Linked DNA regions of Homo sapiens: regions 2, 3, 4, 5 and 6 are each reported to be linked to region 1. The links are microRNA targets in miRTarBase. Many come from high-throughput screens and were not tested one by one. Region 1 holds a microRNA gene; each other region holds the end of a gene's coding sequence.

Region 1 (4,109 bases):
TTGTACAATTGTCCATTAGAGAGCTTCGCTTGACTGGCCCAAAAGGATGTCTCAAACTCAGCATATTGAAGATAGAATTTATCCTTCCATGCATACACTCATATTTCTTGTCTTGGTAACTCCATCATTCAGTTTTTTTGCCTAAGTTTTATTCACAAAAAGAACAAATTGATAGCAGTTGCATACCTCTTATAGGAAACTTAGACATGGAGGAAGAAGCTGTTCAGATGGGGTCCTGCAGAAGTGCAGGCACTGTGGTAATATTTAAACTTTTCTCAGCTGTTCGAAGGGTTTTGTTTTAACTAATTTTCCTTAGACTTGTTTTAGGTATTTGGCTTTCTAATGGTTATAAGGGATGTGGAATTAAATGTATCTTAATCTGCCACCTGGACCCATTAAAGTAAGCCCCTATGGTGGTTTTTTTTTTTTAATTGCCATGGTTAAAACCATAGTTGCTAGCGAAGGTGACATACTTAAGCTTTTTGAACTCTCTTAAAAGAAAACAGAAATTTAATGATGTGTCTATAATGGCAAACCAGATACCTAGAATTTCCATGTTATTCATAGGGTGAATAACACTGGCGATTGTAGAGATTTGAGAGTTCTTTCAAAACAGGAGAACAAAGGGAATAAGCTACAAAGCAATTTTTTTCTTTGTAGACTTAACTGAATAAAAATTATTTTTATGTCTCAAACATCATATGAACAAATTTAGTTGGCAAATGGCAAGCTAATAATATTTTATAATATAGGATATTAATATACTTAATATTACAAAAGTGCTTCATAATTAGAAAAGACATAAACTAGAAAAATGGGAAAAGGGCATGAATAAGAAATTCAAGAGATACAAATGACCCACACACTTGAACAAATGTTTATTCTTTCTCATAATCAAAGAAGTAGAAATTAAATGAATACTTTGAAGCCAACTTCTGAGAAAGCATAGCAAACAAGAAAGCTAGTGCTCAGCTTTGTGTGGTAACGGCACTCTCGCTCTTAAGAAGGTGTGTTTGCTCCCTGTGGCTGCTCTCAGGCAGGGCCACAAACTTGGTGGCTTAAAACACCACAGATTTCTTCTCTTACATTTGAGAAGTCTGAAATGGGTCTTACTCAGCTGAAATCAAGGTGTTGGCAGGGCTGCAGTCCTTTGTGGAGGCTTGGGGGGATCTTGTTCTCCTGTACGGGGTCCTGTGCTTGGTTCGGGGTCCTGTGCTTGGTCTGGGATCCTGTGCTTGGTTCGAGGTCCTGTGCTGGGTCCAGTGCTCTGCTTTTACCACCTTGAAGTTCATCTGGAAATGGCACTGGCTCGCCCACACCATATAGCTGACTCTGGTTCTCCCTCCTCCTCACTCGCTCTAAACCTGTGTTTTTGGCTGATTTCTAATCTCTCTTTCCTTGGCCCTTCTGCAGCTTGCAGGGCCTTCTGCAGCTCTTGTCTGCCCCAGCCCCGGGGTCTGCCCATCCCAGTGCTGGGCTGTTCTGTTCCTGCCCTGCCTTTCCTCAGCCCTTGGCAACCCTGTTTGTTTTCTCCCTTCCTTAGCAGTGGAGAACATCGTAAGATCAATGCTGACTGCCTTCTGCAGCCAAGCCAGGCCATTTCATTTCAGCCGAGCCAAGTCTGTGTGGAGCAGTTCTTTTATTTTTCTCCTTTTGACTACCTCATGGTTTTCACGGATTTTTGTTCTCTTCACATTCAAGGATTTTTTGCTTTCAGAAAGTTATATTTCTCTGGAAAGAGTGCACCCAATATCCCTTTTGATTTCAAAATCTTAATGTGGAGTCTCTTGACTTGGATTTCTTTGGAAGAAACTGCTGAAGCTGCCATGTCTAAGAAGAAAACTTTGGAGAAAAATTTTCTTCTTAGACATGGCAACGTCAACAGTTTCTAAGCTCTTGATTCCGTCTACCCTGTCTCCATCGTTGCCTCAGTCATCTGCCTTACTTCTCTGCAGGGGTTTCTCCCAGCTTGCAAATGTACTCCAATTCTGAAATAACTAAGTCTATAGCTGTGCAAAGAGAAGTCTGGGCCCCTTGCTTTCTTGTGTTTGACTCCATCCACTCTCCAGAAATGAATCCCACTTCTCACTTAACCACTGACCTCCAAAGCATCGTATCATTTGTGTCAGTTGTCATATTTGTTAACTTTCACATAACTTTTGACATTATTTATACCTTTATAACCAGGAAATAATTTTAACTTTATTGTAGAAATAAACAATGGAGTATAATTTTTCTTGTTGAAGATAAATATCACCTCCTCTTCCTTTAAACATCTCTTCCCTTTGTTTTTGTATTACATTGGTTTCCCCCCTTTTTTTATTTCCTGGGTTGTCGTATTCCCTGTTATTATTTTTACCTTTTTTTTTTTAATGTGGATGTTTCCGGAGTCTGTATTTCTTGCCTTTTCATCTTCTGCCCTTTATTATTCTCAGCCACTGCCATTACTTCAGTTATCCATTCCCATGGTTTCCACATGCTTAGCTTCGGTTGATTCTTGCCATTTTACAGACCATATTTCCAACTACTTCTAGAATGTTTTGTTCCTTCAGCCTCAGTATGCCCAATTTGAACTCATGTTCTCTCTCCCCCTTCTTTCTTCCTTCTTTCTTTCGCTCTCTCTCCCTTCCTTCTTTTCTTTCCCTCCCTCCCTTTCTTCCTTCCCTCACTCGTTCTCTCTTGCTTGCTTGCTTTCTCTCCTCTCTCTCTTTTCTTTCTGCATTCTTCTCCCTCCCTCTCTTCCTTCTCTCCCCCACTCCCCAACTTCCAGGCTAAAGCAGTCCTCCTGAGTAGTTAGGACTACAGACATACACGTGCCACCGCGCCCGGCTCCGTGTTCTCTTTGTTTCCCTGCCTCCTGCTCTTCCACTTATCTTTGCATGGCAGGTGGGTGCACGCAGGCATGCTCTGCATGTCTTCCTCTTGGCCATTCCCCTTCTAGTTATGGTGTGGCTTTATCTACGCGTTCTGGAGCAGAAGCCTAGTCACAAAGCTATTTTTTTAAAACATTCATGATAATTCATTTCCTTTTATGTTTTAAAAATACTAGCTTTCTGTCTTTATTTCCTTACTAACTTACTTGGATGCCAGTAATTAGTTGTTTTAGTGAACACCACAGAGTGATATTTTGAAACTTTGGACTTCATAAAGTTGGATGAGCTCCAGTAGCAAAGAAGGAAGTGTTAACTAGTTTAACTGACAAATAAATGCTTCCCAGCTTGGTGTGCGATTGAGATTTTTGTTGCAAGTTTGTGAATCAATTTAACTGCCCCTGCCCTGGGGACTAAAGTCAGATACGTGCTTGTGGGAATCTTTGTCTTTCCCACACCACCCTGCATTTTAAAACCTCTTGTGTGGGACAGTCCCACCATGTAATAGCTGTTCTTCCTTACTCAGCTACTTTCCCTCCAGAGAGGCCAGTAGAAAATCTAGACTAGTTTTTTATAGTCTATTTTCATGTCACTTATTGAGAGCTACTGTTTTCTGTTAAATTGTCAGTAAATATTTTAATCAAGGAAAAGGGAGGTAATAGGAAGGAGAGAAGAACAAATCCTTAACCCTAGTAGGAACCTAATGAATGGGATTTGTTCTGGATAATTGCAGTAGTCCCCCAGCTAAAGAACCTTTTAAAAATATGTCAGATATACCCAAGAGGATTGAAATCGTATGTTCATACAAAAGCTTGTTCACCTGCAGCCTTCATATGCAATTCCTATGAATGTTCATAGCAGCATTATTCATAATAGCCAAAGTATGGATGCAACCCAAATGTCCATGAAGCAATTAATAGGTAAACAAAATGTGATCTGTTCACACAGTGGAATACTAACTATTCAGCCATAAAAAGGAATGAAGCACTGAGTCCTGCAGCCACACAGATGAACCTCAGATCCATGCTGAGCGAAAGAAGCCAGAAACAGGAGGCCATGTGCTGTGTGACTGTATTTCTAGGAAATCTTGAGTCACCATGGGCAAGATGCTATCACCTTTGTTCAGTGGCCAGAAGCGAGGGCACTAATATTTACCCTTGCCGGGGTCTACTAGATTGAAGCGTTTCCGCTAGGCCATAAACTTCCAACACGGTGACTTGTACATGTAGATATTTGATC
Region 2 (4,109 bases), not on the chromosome of region 1:
GTAATCCTAGCACTTTGGGAGGCCGAGGTGGGCAGATCACCTGAGGTCGGGAGTTTGAGACCAGCCTGACCAACATGGAGAAACCCCATCTCTACTAAAAATACAAAATGAGCTGGGTGTGGTGGCACATTCCCGTAATCCCTGCTACTCGGGAGGCTGAGGCAGGAGAATCGCTTGAACCTGGGAGGTGGAGGTTGCGGTGAGCTGAGATTGTGTCACTGCACTCCAGCCTGGGCAACAAGAGGGAAACTCCACCTCAAAATAATAATAATAATAATAATAATAGTGTCATAGAATCAAGAGAGGATTCATTTCAGAGAGGAAGCAGTCAGTTGGCAGGAACTAAGGAGCAGCTTGAGCAGAAGTTGAGAATAGCTGATGAAAGACAAAAGAGTTTGTGATTAAGAGGTTATTAGTAGGGCCGGGCGCGGTGGGGATTGGCAAATCACTTTAGGCCAGGAGTTCGAGACCAGGCTGGCCAACATGGTGGAAACCCCATCTCTACTAAAAATACAAAAATTAGCCAGGCATGGTGGTACACACCTGTAATCCCAGCTACTCAGGAAGCTGAGGCAAGAGAATCGCTTGAACCCAGGAGGCAGAGGTTGCAGTGAGCTGAGATAGTGCCATTGCACTCTAGCCTGTGCAACAGAGAGAGACTCCATCTCAAAAAAAAAAAAAAAAAGAGGTTATTAGTGGCCTCAGTTATTAGTGGTGGTTGAGGATGGAGAGTAGAGGCAAGGAAGACTAAAGAGTCTAAAAGACTAAGGACTAAGTGGAATCTAGTCTTACAGCTTGGCTCTGAAAGGAGAGAGGAGACGGCAGTAGCTTGTGGCATAATAGCAAGGTTTAGTCTTTGTTTTATTTTAAATCCAAGACAAACCCAATCATGTTTTTCAGGGCCAGGGGAATGTGACTGTTATGCTATTTTGCCATAACTTTATTCCTTTCTTCAAATATGTATATAGCCACATTGGAGACAACAAATTTGAATCTCTTTCACAAATATCAGGCAAAATCTTGATCATGCCCCCTGTGACTTAGGATGGACGCTGGCACCATGAGTGGAATCACTTGGATGTAGCACAGTCTATATTTCAGGTGTGTAGTAGTCATGGGAGCTCATGCAATAATAAATATCCTCCCAATCTCAGTGGCTTCACACAATGTTTCTTTCTCATGTCATGGTCTGTTTAGCTGTTAGCAGGTGTTCTTCCATGCAGTGACTCAAGCTGCTTCCCATCTAGTGGCTCCACCATTCCTAGGGCCTCAGTATCCACTGGACTTCTGCATCCAGACATATGGAAAGAATGGAGACTCTCCTGAAAGGTCATGGAGGCCAGGACTTCATTGGGCAAACTCACTCATGTGTCTCAGTGAACAGCAAGGGAGCCTGGGAAATGTAGTGGAACAGCATACCCAAGAAGTGGAAGGGAAATACAACTATTGCTGAACCACAATAAGCTTCTTCCTTTGTTTTGTTTTTTTCTAAACTCATTCAGTCCACTATGTAATAAACTTTTAGATTCTAGCAGAATTTGCATTTAGCCTGGCCTATACTCTCCCCTATTTCATTCACTCAACAAATGTTTATTAGGTGTCTTCTATGTGTCAAGCACTGTGAATGGCTTGACATGTCACATTCTTACAAGGAGGCAAATAGGAATTCAAAATTTCAATACGATGACATAAGTACTATGCTAATTACATACCGGCTATGGGAGTACAGAGGTAGATTAATTCTGCCCAGGTAGTTCAGGAACAATTTCCAGAGGAGATGGCATTTGACCTGTGACTTGCTTAATAGGAGTTCACCAGGCTAAGAAGTTGGATTAGTGGGTAGAGATGGGGGGAGGTTCCCATCTTCCAGGAATTCTAGGCAGAAGGAACAGCATTAGCAAAGACATGATGGGGTGAGGGTTCTGGGCATGTTTGGAAAGCTCCGAGTCTTTGAGTGTAGCTGGAACTTGTCTGGAAGAGATTGTCTAAAGCTAAGTTGAAGGGGTAAGGCCAAGGCCAATTTGTGAAAGTCTTTATGTGATACACTGTTATGGGCTGAACTGTGTCTCTGCAAAATTTATTTGTTGAAGTCCTAACCCCCAGTACCTCAGAATGTGATGGCTGCATGTGTAGATAAGGGCCTTGAAAAAGGTAATTAAGTTACAGTGAGGTCATTCAGGTGGTCCCTAATCCAATATGACTGGTGTCCTTCCAAGAAGTGGAGATTAGACCACAGACACCCACAGAGCAAAAACCATGTGAAGACAAAGGGAGAAGACACCCATCTCCAAGCCAATGAGAGTGGTGTCAGAAGAAACTAACACTGCTGACACCTTGATCTCAGACTTCAGCCTCCAGAAATGTGAGACGATACGTTTCTATTAAGTCACTCAGCCTGTGGTACTTTCTTATGGCAACCCTAACAGACTATTACACATCCTAAAAAGAGGGATGGAGGGGATGTATTCTAGAGACATTTGGAGTCAGAATCCAGGAGACTTGAGAAGTGAGGCAAGGTCAGGTGAGGAAGAGAGCAAAGCTAAGGATGGCTAAAGTTTTTAGCTTCAGATTTCCTGGGTAGCTGGACGGTGGGGCGAGTCACTGTGAAATGCAGCAGAGGAGGAGGAGGTTGCATTGTCCTGTGGTCATTTCTCAAATATGTGTTACCCCTCAGCAAACCTGGAAATCCCATGCATAGTGCCAAGATCGTGTACTGCTTTTAAAGCTCATGTAGGGCCTTGTCCAAGACACTACATAAACAGCACTGAATAGATGCTCATTTCAAAGAAAGCCTTTCCCAGGGGACTTGGAGGGTGGAGAAACCCATGGTTTAGCCAAGTATTTTATAGTTCTTATCACTAGATTTTCACTTGTTTCATGTATTCCAGATAATTCAGAATTGCACAGTGCTGGGGGAAGTGCTGTGGTTGTTAAAAGCAGAAGCCCAAGAAGTGCTTGAGCTGCTGAAACTTGCTGAAGAGGCAGAGAAAGACATTTCTAATTGGCTGCATTTCATTTGCAAGGCTGGCAAATTTGACGTAGAAGTCTTAAGAAAATTGCTAAACCCCAGGGAATTGTCCTAGAATAAAAGAAAATCATCCTCATGTCATTTATAATACAGAGGCAAATGCCACGCTTTATTGTCATTTCTGAGTTTTCACGAGATGTGTAACATTACAAAGCCCCACGATAGGACAAAGGGATCAACTCTTCAGCAATTTTATTAGTTTTGATTTTCCTTTTAGATTTTGCTATCATGTTCTCTATTTTCTCCCAGACCCCCTGTTTTCTTCTCCATTAGCAGTAACTAGAAAGACACTTGGCTGACAGATTCTGAAAGACTGCTTTCCTTTGCGCATTGTTTCTTCCTTCTCACTCCTTTCTCAGTTGACATCCAAATTTATTATATGCTCTGCAACTCGTTTTTTGAACTAGCTTTATGTTTTTGAAAATTTCTATCTCAAAGAAAAGATCTAGAGCCATACAAGATAGCACTAAAACATTTATTTATTGCCTCTCCCATTCCAAGCATTATAAATAATAAAGCATTTGTTATAGATTAAACTTTACATAATTTTCTTCCAAAGGCCTCTTCTAACATTCAGTAAAGACCTGATCACTTCTGAGGAGAAACACATAATGTACGACTACAAAGGAGAGGCTATTTGGGGAAAGGTATCGATCTGTGCAGGATTACTTGGCAAGTGTTTTAGGCTCGCAAAAAATCTGAGAAACGGCGCACCTCTTCATTCTTTCTTTTCCACTTGTTGTGTAAGGCCTCCAAACCCAATACCCGTGGGGCCAAAATTTTTGGCATAGCAAACTGTGAATGAGAAGAGGATGAAGGGAGAGACAATGCATTGGTTAGTGCCATTTTTTTCAGGGCTTTCTGTCTGAGCACAGTCCTTTTAATTATTAGAGACATCCTTTTGATAGATTTATGCATAAGTTCGCCAGGCACGGTGGCTCATGCCTGTAATCCCAGCACTTTGGGAGGCTGAGGCAGGCAGATCACCTGAGGTCGGGAGTTTGAGACCAGCCTGGCCAACATAGAGAAACCCTGTCTCTACTAAAAATACAAGAAATTAGCTGGGCATGGTGGCATGTAC
Region 3 (4,109 bases), not on the chromosome of region 1:
AGACTGAGTTCTAAGTGCATCATTATGCCCATAGTCCAGTGATTCTCTTTCTGTCCACAGCTAATACCTCCAGGACACTTCTAGAGGATAAGGTGAGTTTCATTTCCCCACAGTTTTATCTCCACCATTACCTGCAGCCTCACACTCCCTCTCGGTTTCCACTTCTTTCTTCCATTTCAGGATGTCTCAGTTGTCTACTCTGAGGTAAAGACACAACACCCAGATAACTCAGCTGGAAAGATCAGCTCTAAGGATGAAGAAAGTTAAGAGAATGAAAAGTTACGAGAACGTCCTACTCATGTGATTTCTCCCTTGTCCAAAGTCCCAGGCCCAGTGCAGTCCTTGCGGCCCCTGGAATGATCAACTCATTCCAGCTTTCTAATTCTTCTCATGCATATGCATTCACTCCCAGGAATACTCATTCGTCTACTCTGATGTTGGGATGGAATGGCCTCTGAAAGACTTCACTAAAATGACCAGGATCCACAGTTAAGAGAAGACCCTGTAGTATTTGCTGTGGGCCTGACCTAATGTATTCCCTAGGGTCTGCTTTAGAGAAGGGGGATAAAGAGAGAGAAGGACTGTTATGAAAAACAGAAGCACAAATTTTGGTGAATTGGGATTTGCAGAGATGAAAAAGACTGGGTGACCTGGATCTCTGCTTAATACATCTACAACCATTGTCTCACTGGAGACTCACTTGCATCAGTTTGTTTAACTGTGAGTGGCTGCACAGGCACTGTGCAAACAATGAAAAGCCCCTTCACTTCTGCCTGCACAGCTTACACTGTCAGGATTCAGTTGCAGATTAAAGAACCCATCTGGAATGGTTTACAGAGAGAGGAATTTAAAAGAGGACATCAGAAGAGCTGGAGATGCAAGCTCTAGGCTGCGCTTCCAAAAGCAAATGATAATTATGTTAATGTCATTAGTGACAAAGATTTGCAACATTAGAGAAAAGAGACACAAATATAAAATTAAAAACTTAAGTACCAACTCTCCAAAACTAAATTTGAACTTAAAATATTAGTATAAACTCATAATAAACTCTGCCTTTAAAAAAAGATAAATATTTCCTACGTCTGTTCACTGAAATAATTACCAACCCCTTAGCAATAAGCACTCCTTGCAGAGAGGTTTTATTCTCTAAATACCATTCCCTTCTCAAAGGAAATAAGGTTGCTTTTCTTGTAGGAACTGTGTCTTTGAGTTACTAATTAGTTTATATGAGAATAATTCTTGCAATAAATGAAGAAGGAATAAAAGAAATAGGAAGCCACAAATTTGTATGGATATTTCATGATACACCTACTGGTTAAATAATTGACAAAAACCAGCAGCCAAATATTAGAGGTCTCCTGATGGAAGTGTACAATACCACCTACAAATTATCCATGCCCCAAGTGTTAAAACTGAATCCATTCAAGTCTTTCTAACTGAATACTTGTTTTATAGAAAATGCATGGAGAAAAGGAATTTGTTTAAATAACATTATGGGATTGCAACCAGCAAAACATAAACTGAGAAAAAGTTCTATAGGGCAAATCACCTGGCTTCTATAACAAATAAATGGGAAAAAAATGAAATAAAAAGAAGAGAGGGAGGAAGAAAGGGAGAGAGAAGAAAAGAAAAATGAAGAAAAGTAATTAGAATATTTTCAACATAAAGAAAAGACGAATATTTAAGGTGACAGATATCCCAACTACGCTGATTTGATCTTTACAAATTATATGAGTGTATGAATTTGTCACATGTATCACCCCCAAAAAAAGAGAAAAAGAAAAATAGAAGACATATAAATTAAATGAGACGAGACATGTCGACCAAAAGGAATGTGTGGGTCTTGTTTGGATCCTGACTCAAATTAAGAAAAAATAAAACTACCTACGAAATACTAAGAAAAATTTGTATACTAATATTAAGAAATTGTTGTGTGTTTTGGATATAAGTGATAGTTTATTGTAGTGATGTTTTTATAAAAGCAAAAGGATATTCACTTTCAGCGCTTATACTGAAGTATTAGATTAAAGCTTATTAACGTAAATTCGGCGTACATGAAATTAGTAGATGAAATGATGTGATTTGGTTTGAAATAACCCGATGAGGTGAGGGTGGGTAGGAAGTGGGTAGGTATAGATGTAGCAGGATCAGTCATATGTGCACCATTTCTGGAGCTGAGTGAAGGGTACATTATGGGAAGAAGAGGAGGCTTATACTATTCTTTACTTTTGCAAGTTTTAATTTTCCATAATAAAGAGTTAAAATATCTACACCCAGAAGACCACCTCGTTATACCACTCCATTATTCTACTCTTGTCTGAGGTGCTGCTCACTTCCGTTACAGTGGTGGCTTCGTGTCTCCCTTCTTTTTCCCTTTCGTCCCCACAGCCCATTCTCAGCACTGCGGTCACTGTGCTCAAAACCCTGCAGTGCCTCCCCATCTCTCTTACAGTGAAAGCCAGATGCCCTAAGTGCCCACAAGCCTCCACCTGATCGCTCCCATTGCCTCCAGTCTTCTGCCATTCTTCCCCTTAGCACTTCACTGAGGAAGCGCTGCCTTCTGCACTGCTTCTTGCACACATCAGGTAAATGCCTGTTTGAGGCCTTTGCATGGGCTGCTCTCTGCTTAGAATGCTCTTCCTCCCTGATATCCACCAAGGCTTTGAGGTCTGCCCTGGTGACTCAAGGCTTTGAGGCACATGTAAATCTGGAAACTACTTCCCCCCATCTTTGGCACCTCCAGTCTCCATTACCCTGATTTGCTTTCTTTCCATAGCGCTTATCACTTTCAAACATACTTTGAAACAAACGTTGCCGATTTACTACACTTACTGCATATCATCTCTCTAAAAACTAGATTTCTTAAGGGCAACAAACTGTGTTCTCTTTGTTCATTGATATACCCCAAGTACCTAGAACTCTGCCTGGTACATAGTAGGTGTTTAATCGATATTTTTGAATGAATGAATCAACTATTTCAGTAAGGAAAATCATTGCCCTCTCCATGATGGAAAGGATCCAATGCAAATAATCCACAACCACAGAGTACACAGGCCCCTGAGGAGCTGACTCCATCAGAGGCTCAGGTTTGGCCTCTGTGTATGTCAATTGGGCACTTAGCAGTGGTCAGACTGGCCTGGGTGAGTACATCCTTATGTTACTGAATCCTTCCATAAACTCTGCACCTTCCACCAAGGCCGCTTCATTAATGAGCCCTTTGAGCAATTGCTGGAGTAACTGGAGAAAGAGGCTGCCTGACATTCAGCCAGAGCAGATGATCACAGCCTCCTGATTCCTGAGATCTTCCTCAGTAAGGCCTTGGGTGAGTATTCTCATAAGACACAAATATTCTCATACTCTGGATCCATTCAAAGAGGTCCAACAATATGATTCTTGCCTAATCTTGCAGTTTTATTCTTTCCAAATTCCTGACCATACAGCTCCAAACACTAGCCACTGCTCATGAATCAGAGTAAAGCCTCACCTCTGGACATCTCATCTTCCAGTCAAAGTGGACCACTGGGAATACCCATCTCTGTCACAATCCTCCAGGGATTCCTGAATGTGGTTGAGGTGCTGCAATTGTCACCCTCAGCTGATGTGAGGGCATATTTAAACCAGGATAGACTGTTTTTTCCTCCTCTGTCAGTTGGTCATAGGGAACTCACCACCAGGTCATAGTTGCTGGTTGAAACAGAGAGGTAAAAGAGCAGCAGAATATGAGCTATTCATTGTTTATTCAACTTACCATTGCTTTCAGACCATTCTGGAGTGAGACCTCCTGCAAATCACTTCCACTTAATGATGGAATAATCCTCAATATATTATGAATTTTTGCTTTGTGGATCAGACAGCTTCCAGTTCATGGGGAACAGCTCAGGTCTCTGGTGGGCCATGTTCAAGTGTTCAGTGAAAAAGAAAAGTTACTTGAAGAGAACATAGTTTTGCTCCAAAATTTTATGGTTCTCAACTGTGATTCTCCTGTAGAGCCTTGCTGTAGCCTTTACACAACATTCTGACCAGCCATGACAGTTTTGGGCTCTTTGGATATGCTGGATCCTAAAAGCTAAGGTCAGTGCTGCTTGCACTGTAGCTTAGACAAGCTAAAG
Region 4 (4,109 bases), not on the chromosome of region 1:
ATGAACATCTGAAACGTGGTCTCTGCCCTAGTAATGCAGGAAATGTAAACCAGTGAGAGATCTCACACCCATCAACTTTGTTTTAAAAACAAAATTTTTAAACACTGACAGTACCCTACTGTCCTTGAGGAAGTGAAGAGATGAGAATCCTCGTACACTGCCGGCGAACTCTGGAGATTAATTTGACAAAACCTAGTAAAGCTGCAATGTGCCAGGTCGGTGCAGTGGCTCACACCTGTAATCGCAGCACTTTGGGAGACCAAGACAGGCAAATCGCTTGAGCCCAGGCATTTGAGACCAGCCTGGGCAACATGATGAAACCTGGTCTCTACAAAAAAATACACAAAGTAGAATCCAATTTAAATTATATTCAGTTAAGTCAAGGATGTCCATGAAAAGAACATATAAATATGCTAATAGGAGGAAATGGTATAATAAAAATATTAATCCAAAAGAGGCAAGAAACAAGAGAAAAGGGTAGGTAAAATGCCCTGGTCATGGAGAAAATGAATGGTTCAGCTGTAGATGTGAATCCAAACACATAAATAATCATATTAAATGTAACTGGGTTACATATTCCAACTAAGAGACTATGTTTAAAGAAAATCTATATGCTGTTATGAGAAAAATACAAAAGGATTAATACGGATGGAAATGATGTATTATGCAAATACTAACCAAAAGTAACTAATATAGCTACATTAATATATAAAATAAGGTAATAAAGCTTTGGTTGAGACTCATTATGAAGGACATTTCATAATAGAAGGGTCAATCTACCACAAAGACGTAACAATTCTAAATTTATGTTCACTTAGTAAACTAACTTCAAAATAAAAGATTGACATAAAAGATATGCAAATCTACATTCATATCATAATATTCTATCACTTCTCAGGAACTGGTAAGAGCCAGGGAAGAAATCTATAATGATCTAGATCTGTAAAACATGATTAAATTTGACCTAATACACCAAATAAAAAGCATCCAGTAAGGATAGAAACATATTCTTTTCAAGTAGACGTGTTATTTCTCAAAATTGACCATATAGTGGGGTCAAAATGGATGTCTCAATTTCAAATGTATGTTTAATGATAATGTAACATTATGCTGGAGTCAACATAACCAGAAAGTTTTCAAATGTTTGGAAATTAAGCAATACATTGCTAAATAACTCACAGGTTAAAGAAAAAAATCAGAATGCAAACTAGAAAGCATTTTGAAATGAATGATAATAAAAATACAGCATATAGCCTTAAAATGAAGATATTAGAAAACAACTAAAAATCAATTTTCCAAGCAATCGTCTCAAGAAATTAAAAAGTCGAGCAAATTATAGCCAAAGAAAGGTTGGGCGTGGTGACTCATGCCGGTAATCCCAGTACTTTGGGAGGCCAAGGCGGGCGGATCGCTTTGAGCCTCGGAGTTTGAGATGAGCCTGGGCAACATGGAGAAAGCCCATCTCTACAAAAAATACAAAAAAAAAAAAGTTAGCTGGGCATGGTGGCATGTGCCTGTCAGTCGCAGCTCTGCAGTGAACTGTGATGATCGTACCACTGTACTCCAGCCTGGGCAATAGACTGATAGTGAGACTCTCTCTCAAAAGAAAAAAAAATATAGAAAAAATGAGGAGCAAGAACAAATAATATAAAACTATTTGAGCCTTGAAAGTAACTTTTAAAACATATAAGTAAAAAGTGTTTTTGACACTTTTAATAATACACTGCAAGAACTCCCCCTCATGTAAACTAAGGGAAGTGTGTGCTTTGTTTTGTTCAAAACTTTAAAAGCAGAGCATGACTCCTAGTAAAATCTCATCGCCAGCAGCAAACTATTCATGGTACCATCTCCATGTGTAGTTACCATTGTTAGTGACTCTATATACTGGAGCAAACATCTGACTATTCCATTATATTATTTTCATGATGTAGTTGTACCTGAGCATTTGCATATTGAAAAATTTATTTTATTATAAATCACTTTCATTTTTCTTTTATAATAGGGGATTATGGTCTATATCATAACATACTCAATGTAAAGTTATATTTAGATATATTATGAATTTCATGATGGTAAAGGGGAAATCTCAAAATACTTTTAAGAAAGTATCATGTTTGACAGTTGACAATCTCTGGATTTGATGACTGTTAAGGTCCTTCTCAGCCTTAACAGTCTGAGATTTTTTTGTAACCATTACTTCCAACAATAGCTTTGTTCTATTTTGAAACTAGTGTGTGGCAGGCACTGTAAGTGGAACAGTATCTCATTTAAATCTAATCACCCTTATAATAGGTAGTGTTACTGTAACTAACTGTTTATATGAGAAAACAAATTCAGAGAAGTTAAATAATGTGTTCAAGTTCACATACCTAGGTAGAGCTGGACTGACTCCAAACTCATGTTCGTTTCACTCACGAAAAGAACATTAACATAACATACATTACTTTACCTAGAAGAGTTAAACACTATCAGTCAACAAGTGAGGTTAGGCTAATGTAAGCATCTGTAAGAAAGAGTCTCTACCCACCACAGCAAGAAAGAGGAGAAGATGGAATGTATAAATATAGTAGGCACCTTTTTAAAGTCAGGACCAATTAATCATGTAAGGTAGTTATAAATGGATGACATCTAAAAATATATCAGAATAAGTTTCAAGCCATGCAAAATTCACCAAAACAATTTTTATTTCCAGTGTTTAATTGGGTATGCACACAGGCATGACACAGGTTTGGATTCATTAAGTCCTCATGCAGAATTATATTCTTCTCGATAAAGAAGCCAGTTCCATCCAGGATCCACTATCTACACACCTATGTTACAACATTATATCAAATCTGGTATCTGAAGAAAAGATACACATTTAATATGTTCATTTAAGTTACGTATTTTACAGAAAGATTAAAAATTCAAGTCACACAAAACTCAAAAACTGTATTAAAAGTTTGAATATAAAACTCAGATCCACCTGGAATGACTAAAGAATGGAAGTTCTGTATCCACCTGTGTTAAAACTGGTAAATGTAATGATATCTGTTACCAATAAAACGCATTCGTTTATTCAATGTAAGTAAGTTATCTAATTTTAACAATATGGCACCCTAAAAACCAACTGTATTTTTATGATGAGGCACTTTTGTTAGTGATGAAACCAAAAGAACAAATTTGCTGCACACTGATGCCAGCGATTTTCTTCAGTGATTTTGGGTATATGCTATGTAGTAAGTTGCAACAAATACCTTGCTCATTTGTATACAACTATCCGATATATTTTTAAATATATATATATATATATATGTTCTTCTGGCTGTAGTAATGCACTGTAAAGCTATTTCACAGTGCAAAATGATGAAACCAGCCCAAATGAAGGCTGCATAATAACAATTCTGATACAAGAAAATATTGACAGAGTTACTGGAACGTGTAACAGTAGTTTTTTTACTTGCTAGAGTGGACATACCCCCAGTTTAAAGACAGGGATGAAACTCTGCTTTACTGCCTGGGGTTTCAGACAGTTTATGAGGTTGGGCATTCGCTGCAGAACTAGCATTTTTGCTCACGTTCTGGAAGCTTTCTCCGTTTATTTGGTCAGGTGACTGTGGTGGTATGGAAAGAAGGGGCCTGTTTGTTGAAGCCAAGGTGCTGGAAGAACTGCCTGTGTTGCAATGAAGAGACAAAGGTGTGTCGGTCGTGGCTATTTCTCGTGTGCTTGGGTTCTCTGTCTGGGGATCTCCGATTTCTCCTCTGCTAAGGTCAGAGGTACTGGTGCGTAGGCGTTCCCTGGCCAGCCAGTCTGAGATGGAAAGGTCCTGGGCTGAGCATTTTGGTTTTAACCGGTTTACAGCTGAAAGTTCAGATTCTCTCTCCCCGCTCTGCTCATGCACTTTCCAAAAATTCAAAACGCTGATTTCGGTAGCATCTCTGTGCCCTCCTAGTGTATGTCTGCGCCGGATGCTTTTCCTTTTAGCAGTCTCGGCATTCACTTTGTGATTCCCTACTCCAAACATGTCATCCGCAGGGGCTCTGGGTCTCAGTTTTAACCGATCTGCTATTTTCGTTTTCCATGTGGGTTCCTGTTTTTCGGATTCGCCTCTGGTGGGTGTCAGTAAACT
Region 5 (4,109 bases), not on the chromosome of region 1:
TAAGCATTCTTGCTTCACTGGTGATACCAGTAAATCTAAGTTTCCTTTTCTTCTATATATACACATACACTTAACTGCAGATTTTTTTCAAAACAGTTTCACTTTAAAGTTTACACCCTAGAAGTCATAATTCTGTGTGGCAAGGTTAACACTTGAATTTAAAAATAGCATATTTTAGTCATCGTATTATAAATGTTTAGAAACTTATAACTATACTCATAAAAATATTGTTAAGAAATGCCCCCCTTAATACTCTTTAATATTCATATATGGATGTTTAAGAGACACTTTGCTAATATGATTTGATCAAATCATAGGCAGAGTAGAGGCTGAATTGATCCCATGTTGTGTCCAATCACCCAGGGATGCATCAGTTCCCTAGGTGGGAACCTTGAATTGTGAGGTAGGCAGAGGGAGATAACTTTGTCTCACTTGGCTCCAACTTAATCATTCTTCTCTATTTAGCAGAGAGTACTCTTGTTTCTGCTATGTCAATGTTGATGAAACAGACAACAATGCACATAGCTTTAAAAATATAGTCATTTCAATAAAGTTTTTAAAATGTGTTATTTAACAAATTGAGCATGGGATACTTAAATCTTAGAAAATGTTAGGAACCTTATTGATATCTTTTGGTTGGGAAAGTCCTGGCAAGTCTATTGCTAAAGTAAAACTTCAAGTCAAAATGTGTGTTTTTTATTTGTTTGTTGTGTGTGTGTGTGTGTGTGTGTGTGTGTGTGTGTGAGAGAGAGAGAGAGAGAGAGAGAGAAAGAGAGAAAGAGAGAGATAGTTCCTGAGATTTTTAGTTTAATTCATGACACTCTAAAAGTATAGGTCAATCTTATTAGGATCAAGGTATTAGTCACTTTATTCTATGTTACAAGACCTGAAATAGGCTTTTAAACACAAAATGCTGACACTGTGGTGGCAAAGAAAGTCAGCAAGAGATGCAAGCTTTCATTCTGTGTTCCTAGGCAAAGAGAATACTTAGGCGATATTTGGGCAACTAGTAGAGCAGACATTATCTCCTGCTCACAGAAACCACTGTACGAAGATTATCCTGTTGATTACCAATATTTGAGGATACAGATTTTATACTCCTTAAAAAATACTGTAATTATTCTGTTAGACATATTTGTGTGTCTATAATCTTTGGGCACTTCAAAGTACACTAGAAATGAGTCTGGTGTTCAAGAGATACATAAAACATAATAATCTCTCCTTGGTTTGGAAGGTGTAAGATAGTTGGAATATTACTATTGGTTATTACTGCAACTACTACTAATAATTTACATTCACCAAGCACTTGTTTTAGACACTGTGCCAAGTCCTAGTATATTTTAAAGTCATGTTGGACCATCCCTTTGACCTCAAGAAAAAGTGTTCACTAGCCGTAATAATACGCATAAAAGATGACTTATTCTCAGCAACAGAAACTCAATAAAAAGTTGATTAAGCCACCGGATAGTTATAAATTGTTAGTATAGTATTTAAACATGCAGTTTCTGTCACAGTGAAGGTGGCCTCTAGAAGTTGGTGCGTTCAGCTTTTGAGTCAAAAACCGTTCTCTTCTTAGCAGCCCCGCACCAATGACTGAGATGACAGAGGACCACAGCCTGACTGCTTTAATGGATGTGTTTTCACTCTAGAACCCCCTGTCAGACTGGCAGAGATTTTGCCAGGTCCGCACTGCAGTCTAAGACTCTCTTGCCAAATCCTGCTCCCAATCCCTCTATTGTTACAAGTTTTAGGTCTGCAAACTTGTCTGAAGGTTTTCCCTGCCCAATGCGTCTGCTTCCAGAAGGACCCAAATGACACAGCTGGACTAGCCTTTAGGTGTTCCATGTTCCTCTTATGTCCCTGCTGGTATCTTGCTGTGTGATCACTGGCAAGCCATTTCTCTTCTCTGTTTCTCTATAATAAAGAGTCTTACAAACAAAAGTGACCCTTGGGATGATTTGGTTGAGTATTCTAGAATTTTAGTTTGAGTTGATGATTCTGTTAATAGATCTTCCACTGATTGAAAAAAAAATTAATGACAACAAAGGTATTTATAAAAATATATTTCACAAAGTAGGAAACAATACAGGAGTTTCTCTGAATACAATACATGGAGTGAATAAACAATATTGCATTAAAGCAAAGTAGAAAATTAAAATGATCTGCATGTAATACTTGAGTTTTATCATACATTTTCTACTCCTAAATGGCAGGTTTGCATTACAAATTAAATATGCTCACATCTTCTAGTGCTGTTCCTTTTTGGAGTCTAAGACATTCTGTGCATCACCATGAAGATCAGGGATAGGAGTGCTAAAAACGTAAACAGTGAAATTATGTACAAATCAGTTCCTGCTCTAAAACTGTGGGGGTAAATTGAAGCATGTTTATTGGGCAGGGCATGATGTAGGTATCTAAAAGTCTAGAGTTTAAATATTCACAGGAATCAATATACTTTAGGATGTTTGTGCTTGTAGTAAAAACACCAAATACTAGGATTATGAACAAAATAGAAAACAGTCCAAAAGTTTGTCTGGGAAGATGCTGTTCCTGCCATCTCCAGTTACAATAACACTTTCTACTCTAAAGAGACTATTAGCTCTCCTTTCGATAATATTGCCTGCCATACTCATCTCATCAAAATGTACATGTATTAAACATTCATTGTATATATATTTATATAAAACAATCTAAAGGATTATTAATGGATATAATTTAGTTTTTTCCCATATATCCCCTTAATCTATAGATTACCGACCTTAATAAATAAAAGCATTAATGGACATCAATAAAATATTTATTTCGAGGATTAAACAAATAAATTCACGCGCTAGCAATAAAACCATCTGTCTCTTATGTAGTCCACTGTGTGATACAGTTTATCTTTGTGTCCTTGTGGAAGAAGATGAAGAGGAGGGAACGAGGAATCCTGCTTCTAGAAAACAAGCATGTTTGAATGGGATTTCTCTCCTCCCACCACTGAATTGGCAAGCCCCACCCTGGAATGGATTACGAACATGTGAATATTTTAAGGCTCGACACAATATTTAAAGATGCTATTCAGTCTCTAGTGAGTGGGGCCAACAATTATGTACAATGTGTGGTCACCGTACTGTATAATCTAGGAGGCCTCTCAAAACTCCAAAAAGTTATAATGTACAGCAGACCAAGTATTGCTTTATCATTTGTGGCGGGATCCTTATTGGTGAAGGGGAAAAAACCATTTGCATTCATAAAAATCCTTGCAGAAGACACATATCAGCAGCAGATTCCTTGCAGGTCCGTATTTTTTTTTCTAAGAAAGCACCTTTTAATTATGATTTTTTCCTCTATTTAAACCATTTATCTAAGGATTAGCCAGGATCCCAATCTTTGTCTGTGGTGGTCAGGTAAATATCAAATATCCAAGGACTTCTAGACACTCCACATACTTAATTCACACTCCACAAGATTTATAACCTCCTAACATATACTTTTTTATTTTATTATCTTTTTTTGGTTCAACATTAAAATGTGGTTGAGTTTATAGATGACTGGTGCTAAACTTGCCTCTAAAACAAATAGCCACATTGGTTGTATCTAAGGGGAGTGACCCTAGAATATTACAGAATGCTCAGTTCCAGTGATTTATTTATAATCCACTGTCAAGTTTCTTTGTCACTTTCACCAACAGAGTAGAGTTCGCCCAGTCTCTTAAAGCGGGGACCCCAGTCACTGAGGTAGTCAAAATTCTGGTCTGAGTCTGATGTGGTGGACTCCAAGGAGCTGAGGGAGCCAGCCACTGACCCTCGGCCTTCATAGCCATATATCTGAATGGAGTCATATGGCGGGGCCGTGGGATCATTATCTGCCTCATGCAGCCTTACATTTATAAATTCATCGACATCAACACCATTTGGAACTGGAGCAAGCCCTTGCCTTGGCATAAACTGCAAATCTGGTTTAATATCCTTACGGGGTAAAAATCCATTAATTCCATCTGGATTTTGTAAAGTTGCAATGTCAAAAGCCTCTGTGTCCTCCTCCCCTCCTCCTTCATCATCGTAGCGAATGATGTTTTCTCGAACGTCTTCATCATCTTTGATAATTAATGGTTCATTTTTATGCCG
Region 6 (4,000 bases), not on the chromosome of region 1:
CCAGAATGCTGCTAAGGTTAACTATATAAAGAGTGGAGAAGCTGGAGTTTGCATTCCAATCTGTTAACCTTCAACAACCCTACTCCTTCTGCTTGGCTAGTGTTTCTAAAGTGTGCAGATGAGGTATACAAAATTGATTTTAAGTTTTAGTTTGGCAAGTTTAAAAATAAGAATTCTTATGTTTAACTTGAATTAGACAAAGACCCCAGTTGGCACATGAGACCTGCAATTCTGTAGATATCATTGCTTAACATATATAGTGTGTATATTAAAAAAAAAAAAGTCAATTTGTGAAAATATTAAGGTGATACGTGAACACAGCCCTCCTGAATAAATCTAATTTTGGAGTGCAGGGTCCTCCCTATCATTCTGCTTAAATTGACTACGGCTTCTGATCCTGGCCTGCCAACTCTATATTTATTTAGCGCCCAGTTCTCCAACCAACCCCTGTATTACTGAGACTGAATTATGAAATAGTAAATATTCACACTGCAGTTTTGTGAAAAAAGCATGCTTAGTTGCCAAATACTTTGTCCATTTAGTCTGAGTTCTGTTAGTCTCTCAGGTTCCTCTAAAAAACATATACATTTTTAAAATTAACCAATAGTCAGAATTATTAACCAATAATCAGAATTTGTAGGTATTTCCTTTAAGGTGTACAAAGTCAAATGAGAGTACATATGTCTGCTTTTCAAACTAGGGTACACATAAGGGGCAAGTGTTAACCAAGATTACCATGATGTGTCTTTCTAGAGGAACTATTACAATATCTCAAGGAGGTTAAGATTTTTGTATTGCAATGAAATGCGGAATGAGAATGCATAATTTATATTACGATTAATGATACAACATGAGACTAAACCAGTTCAGTGTCATGACTGAACAAAGTTTAAGTTTGTGTTAGCAAAAAGCAATGTGAAAATGCAAAGCAGTGTTCAAATGTAAGTCATTACCCTTATCAAGTTTTAGAATCCTTGGTCTCCAGGAAGCCAAATAGCCTCAGGACTTATCTTGCAGGGTTGTATTTCCTCAAGGCTATCAGGTAGGTGAAACAGTGTAAACTGAGGAAAGTGTTTTAATAATGATGTATGAATTATCCAAAGAAAGTATATTCTGAGAGGTCTTCTGAAAAAGCTATTCTAGAATCCAGAGGCTCAGCTGAAGACACTGATGATAATCCTCACGAAAGAAAATAATCAGATGTGGGCTCTAAATTCCCCTCAAACCAAATGACAAGCTCCCTATATATAGCTGGGCCTAATTACTATAACCACTGTCTCCCATGACATTTCTTTTGCTTTTTCTACTTATCCCGTATTACTTTAGTTAGATAAAATATTCCAGGTGTCTTGCTTATTGCTATATTATCCACTGTAAAGGTATTTTATTATTATGCCAATATTAAGATTTTCTTCTATGAATAAAGCCAACATCTTTTTATTAGCAAAGTGCTAACAGAACTGGACCAAAGAAATTACAATTCCATTCTCATTTCCTGTTATAACTCCACCTAAGATATCTTAAATGCCTGCATACATCACAAAGCCTACCAGGGGGTGGTAAGTGATTTTTCAATTAGAGTAACCCTTCAGTTTTCAATGAAAGAAATCATTATTGCATTTCTGCTGAAACTAATTACTTGTATCTTTTTTTCTTTCTTTTCTTTCTGAGGCGGAGTTTCAGGCTGGAGTGCAGTGGCGTGATCACAGCTCACTGCAACCTCTGCCTCCTGGGTTCAAGTGATTCTTCTGCCTCAGCCTCCTGAGTAGCTGGCATTACAGGCGCATGCCACCATGCCCCGCTAATTTTTTCTGTTTTTAGTAGAGACGGGGTTTCACCATGTTGGCCAGACTGGTCTTGAACTCCTGACCTCAAGTGATCCACCTGCCTTGGCCTCCCAAAGTGCTGGGATTACAGGCGTGAGCCACCGCGCCTGGCCACTTGTATCTCTTTTATCTCACTTCCTTGGAAGGGTTTTCCAAATGCAGCAACCCTACTTTGAGTAACACATTGGATCTGTTTAGCATACTACTGAAACTCAATATCCACAATGGGAGTAACAGCTAACATTCAATGTTATTCTGTGCCAGGCCCTATTATAAGCCCCTATTATTTAAAATCCATATGTCAACTCGTTTACACCTCACAAAACTCTGAGGCAGGTATTACTTGTATTTAACAGATGCGGGGGTTAAGTAATTTGCCGATGGTCACACAGCAGCTGCACTCCTCTACTGCCTCTCTTCGTGTTCTACTTTATGTTAGTCTACTGTTCATCTGCTGGTTCCACAAATTAGATGTATGCTTATATTCTCAGTATTGGTTTTCACAAAAAATGCTGTATGAAAGCAAATGACATACATACTTTGTAAGCTTTCAAATGTTACATAAACGTCAAATAGCTTATTAAAGAGAAATACTACTGGCATCTATAAAGAACCCAAAAGACAGATGATAAAATGTAACGCTTACCTCTTCTAACTGCAATGGTTTGGGAACTGAAATCTATTTTCCTGGAACAGGAATGGGATTCTTTCCACAACTATTTAGGAACACTCCCTCTTATCAGATGGAAAAAAAAAAATGAAGTGCAAATCCTTTTTCTGGGACATTTAAATCATACTTCTCTTCCTTTACTATTCTCAAGAGATGGTTGATCTGAATTGCTAATTGCCCAAATACTGCTAGTACAGAAATGCAATATTTAAGGCTTTAGACTATTTTCCTTCAGTTCTCTGCAGTCGCAGTGAAATACTTCAAGCGCAATTTTTGCTGAACTCTTCTTTTCAGCAGTGGAAAAGCTGCGGAAATGGAAACTTACCCCCAACATATTTCAATTTGGAAGTTCAACTTCAAAGAAAAATCATAAAAATGTAAGTTTTATTGAGTGCCTATAGTGTGCATGGGCCTTTATTAGACACGCCAAATTCAGGCACAACAGACACAAGATCCCTGGCCTCAGGTACCTTATGATCTAATTAATAGATATTAGAAACAGTAGAAAGACAAGTTACACGTCAATGCCCAATGACTAGAGTCAACATTAAAGAGTTGTAATTTAAGTAATCCAAACTGACATCTAATTCCAAAATCATTTATAAAATGTATTTGGCTTTGGAATCCACAGGACTTCAAACAAGCAAAGTTTCACTGCAGATAGTCACAAAGATGCAGATACACTGAAATACTTAAGAGCCTTATTAATGATTTTTGTTATTTTGGATCTTCTGTTTTTTTCTTATTATGGTCCGAAGCCTCCTTAATACCAATTTATCAGACAGAAGCATGTCATCTTGTTGTTCAAGATAATCCAGTAAATTTTCAGTCCATTCAAGTGCCGCTTTATGGCTAATATGCTTCTCTGGATTCAGTTCTGTTTTTCTACTCTTACTGGAAGGCTTTTGCTCAGCAGCCTTGGTCTGGTCCTCAGCACTTTCACTGTCAGTCAGCACCTGACAGCTTGAGTCACTGCTCCGAGAGTCGAACCACTGATCAATATTCTCAATGTCAACATGTTCACATTCTTCTGTGTTCTGTAAAACTGTTGCTAAATTAGCTGCTAAAATGGCTCCTTCATCAATGTTCATACCTGAATTCTCTTCATTGCCAGGGAAAAGTTTTTTCCATGCTTTGGTTATGGTACTTGATTTTACCATGTTCCAAGCTCTTGACACTTCATAAATTGCATCCAACACTGTCAAGTTCTTCCAAAATATTTTTGGGTCATTTCCTTCATCCATGTATTTCTGGAGAAGTCCTGCTCGATAGTATCTTTTTACAGTGGCTAGAACTCCCTGGCTCATTGGTTGAATCAGACTTGTGACATTTGGTGGCAAATACTTCACAATTATTCTGCCATCATCTGAACTCAACATTTCTTCATTTGGACGTGCTGGGGGGAAATCTAAAAGAAGCACTGCTTTTTCTAAAAGTCCCTTGGATTTCAAATGCTTCTGTACCTGTGGCACAAAGTACTTTTCAAACCACTGTCTGAAAACAG

Evidence for each region. The annotated mature microRNA hsa-miR-4659b-3p reads UUUCUUCUUAGACAUGGCAGCU and lies in region 1 at 1,820-1,841, opposite strand. An mRNA with a match to its seed (bases 2 to 7 or 8) in the 3' UTR can be bound and repressed. Matches are read on the target gene's strand: a 7mer-m8 pairs with bases 2 to 8, a 7mer-A1 pairs with bases 2 to 7 and ends in A, and an 8mer does both.
Region 2: the mRNA of CSRP3 is a reported target of hsa-miR-4659b-3p. Seed matches in the 3' UTR shown: 7mer-A1 at 3,576-3,582, 7mer-A1 at 3,362-3,368 and 8mer at 3,287-3,294.
Region 3: the mRNA of FCRL4 is a reported target of hsa-miR-4659b-3p. Seed matches in the 3' UTR shown: 7mer-A1 at 1,605-1,611, 8mer at 1,619-1,626 and 7mer-A1 at 1,635-1,641.
Region 4: miRTarBase lists ARHGAP21 as a target of hsa-miR-4659b-3p. Seed matches in the 3' UTR shown: 7mer-m8 at 3,296-3,302, 7mer-A1 at 3,187-3,193 and 7mer-m8 at 2,761-2,767.
Region 5: miRTarBase lists CDH8 as a target of hsa-miR-4659b-3p. Seed matches in the 3' UTR shown: 7mer-m8 at 451-457 and 8mer at 47-54.
Region 6: the mRNA of TIGD2 is a reported target of hsa-miR-4659b-3p. The part of its 3' UTR that is shown has no 7-base or 8-base seed match.

Annotation. Positions count from the first base shown.
Region 1 is chr8:6,743,356-6,747,464 of GRCh38, forward strand. MIR4659B (microRNA 4659b) reads right to left here and starts at 1,885; the gene lies at 1,813-1,885. The region is part of intron 5 of AGPAT5 (1-acylglycerol-3-phosphate O-acyltransferase 5); the gene reads left to right. MIR4659A (microRNA 4659a) reads left to right here and starts at 1,809; the gene lies at 1,809-1,889. RefSeq lists enhancers at 1,100-1,379, 1,410-1,489, 3,102-3,151, 3,753-4,047 and a silencer at 2,912-2,961.
Region 2 is chr11:19,178,924-19,183,032 of GRCh38, forward strand. CSRP3 (cysteine and glycine rich protein 3) reads right to left here. Exons shown (of 6, transcript NM_003476.5): 6 at 3,107-3,823. The coding sequence ends at 3,747. Among named protein-coding and RNA genes, the nearest start is that of CSRP3-AS1, 16 kb to the right of the region's middle.
Region 3 is chr1:157,571,682-157,575,790 of GRCh38, reverse strand. FCRL4 (Fc receptor like 4) reads left to right here. Exons shown (of 12, transcript NM_031282.3): 11 at 61-92; 12 at 181-2,044. The coding sequence ends at 267. Among named protein-coding and RNA genes, the nearest start is that of FCRL5, 21 kb to the right of the region's middle.
Region 4 is chr10:24,580,948-24,585,056 of GRCh38, forward strand. It overlaps ARHGAP21 (Rho GTPase activating protein 21), which reads right to left. Exons shown (of 26, transcript NM_020824.4): 26 at 2,667-4,109. The coding sequence ends at 3,465. Among named protein-coding and RNA genes, the nearest start is that of ARHGAP21, 140 kb to the right of the region's middle.
Region 5 is chr16:61,649,964-61,654,072 of GRCh38, forward strand. It overlaps CDH8 (cadherin 8), which reads right to left. Exons shown (of 12, transcript NM_001796.5): 12 at 1-4,109. The coding sequence ends at 3,645. Among named protein-coding and RNA genes, the nearest start is that of CDH8-AS1, 270 kb to the right of the region's middle.
Region 6 is chr4:89,113,753-89,117,752 of GRCh38, reverse strand. TIGD2 (tigger transposable element derived 2) reads right to left here. Exons shown (of 2, transcript NM_145715.3): 2 at 2,852-4,000. The coding sequence ends at 3,201. Among named protein-coding and RNA genes, the nearest start is that of TIGD2, 4.2 kb to the right of the region's middle.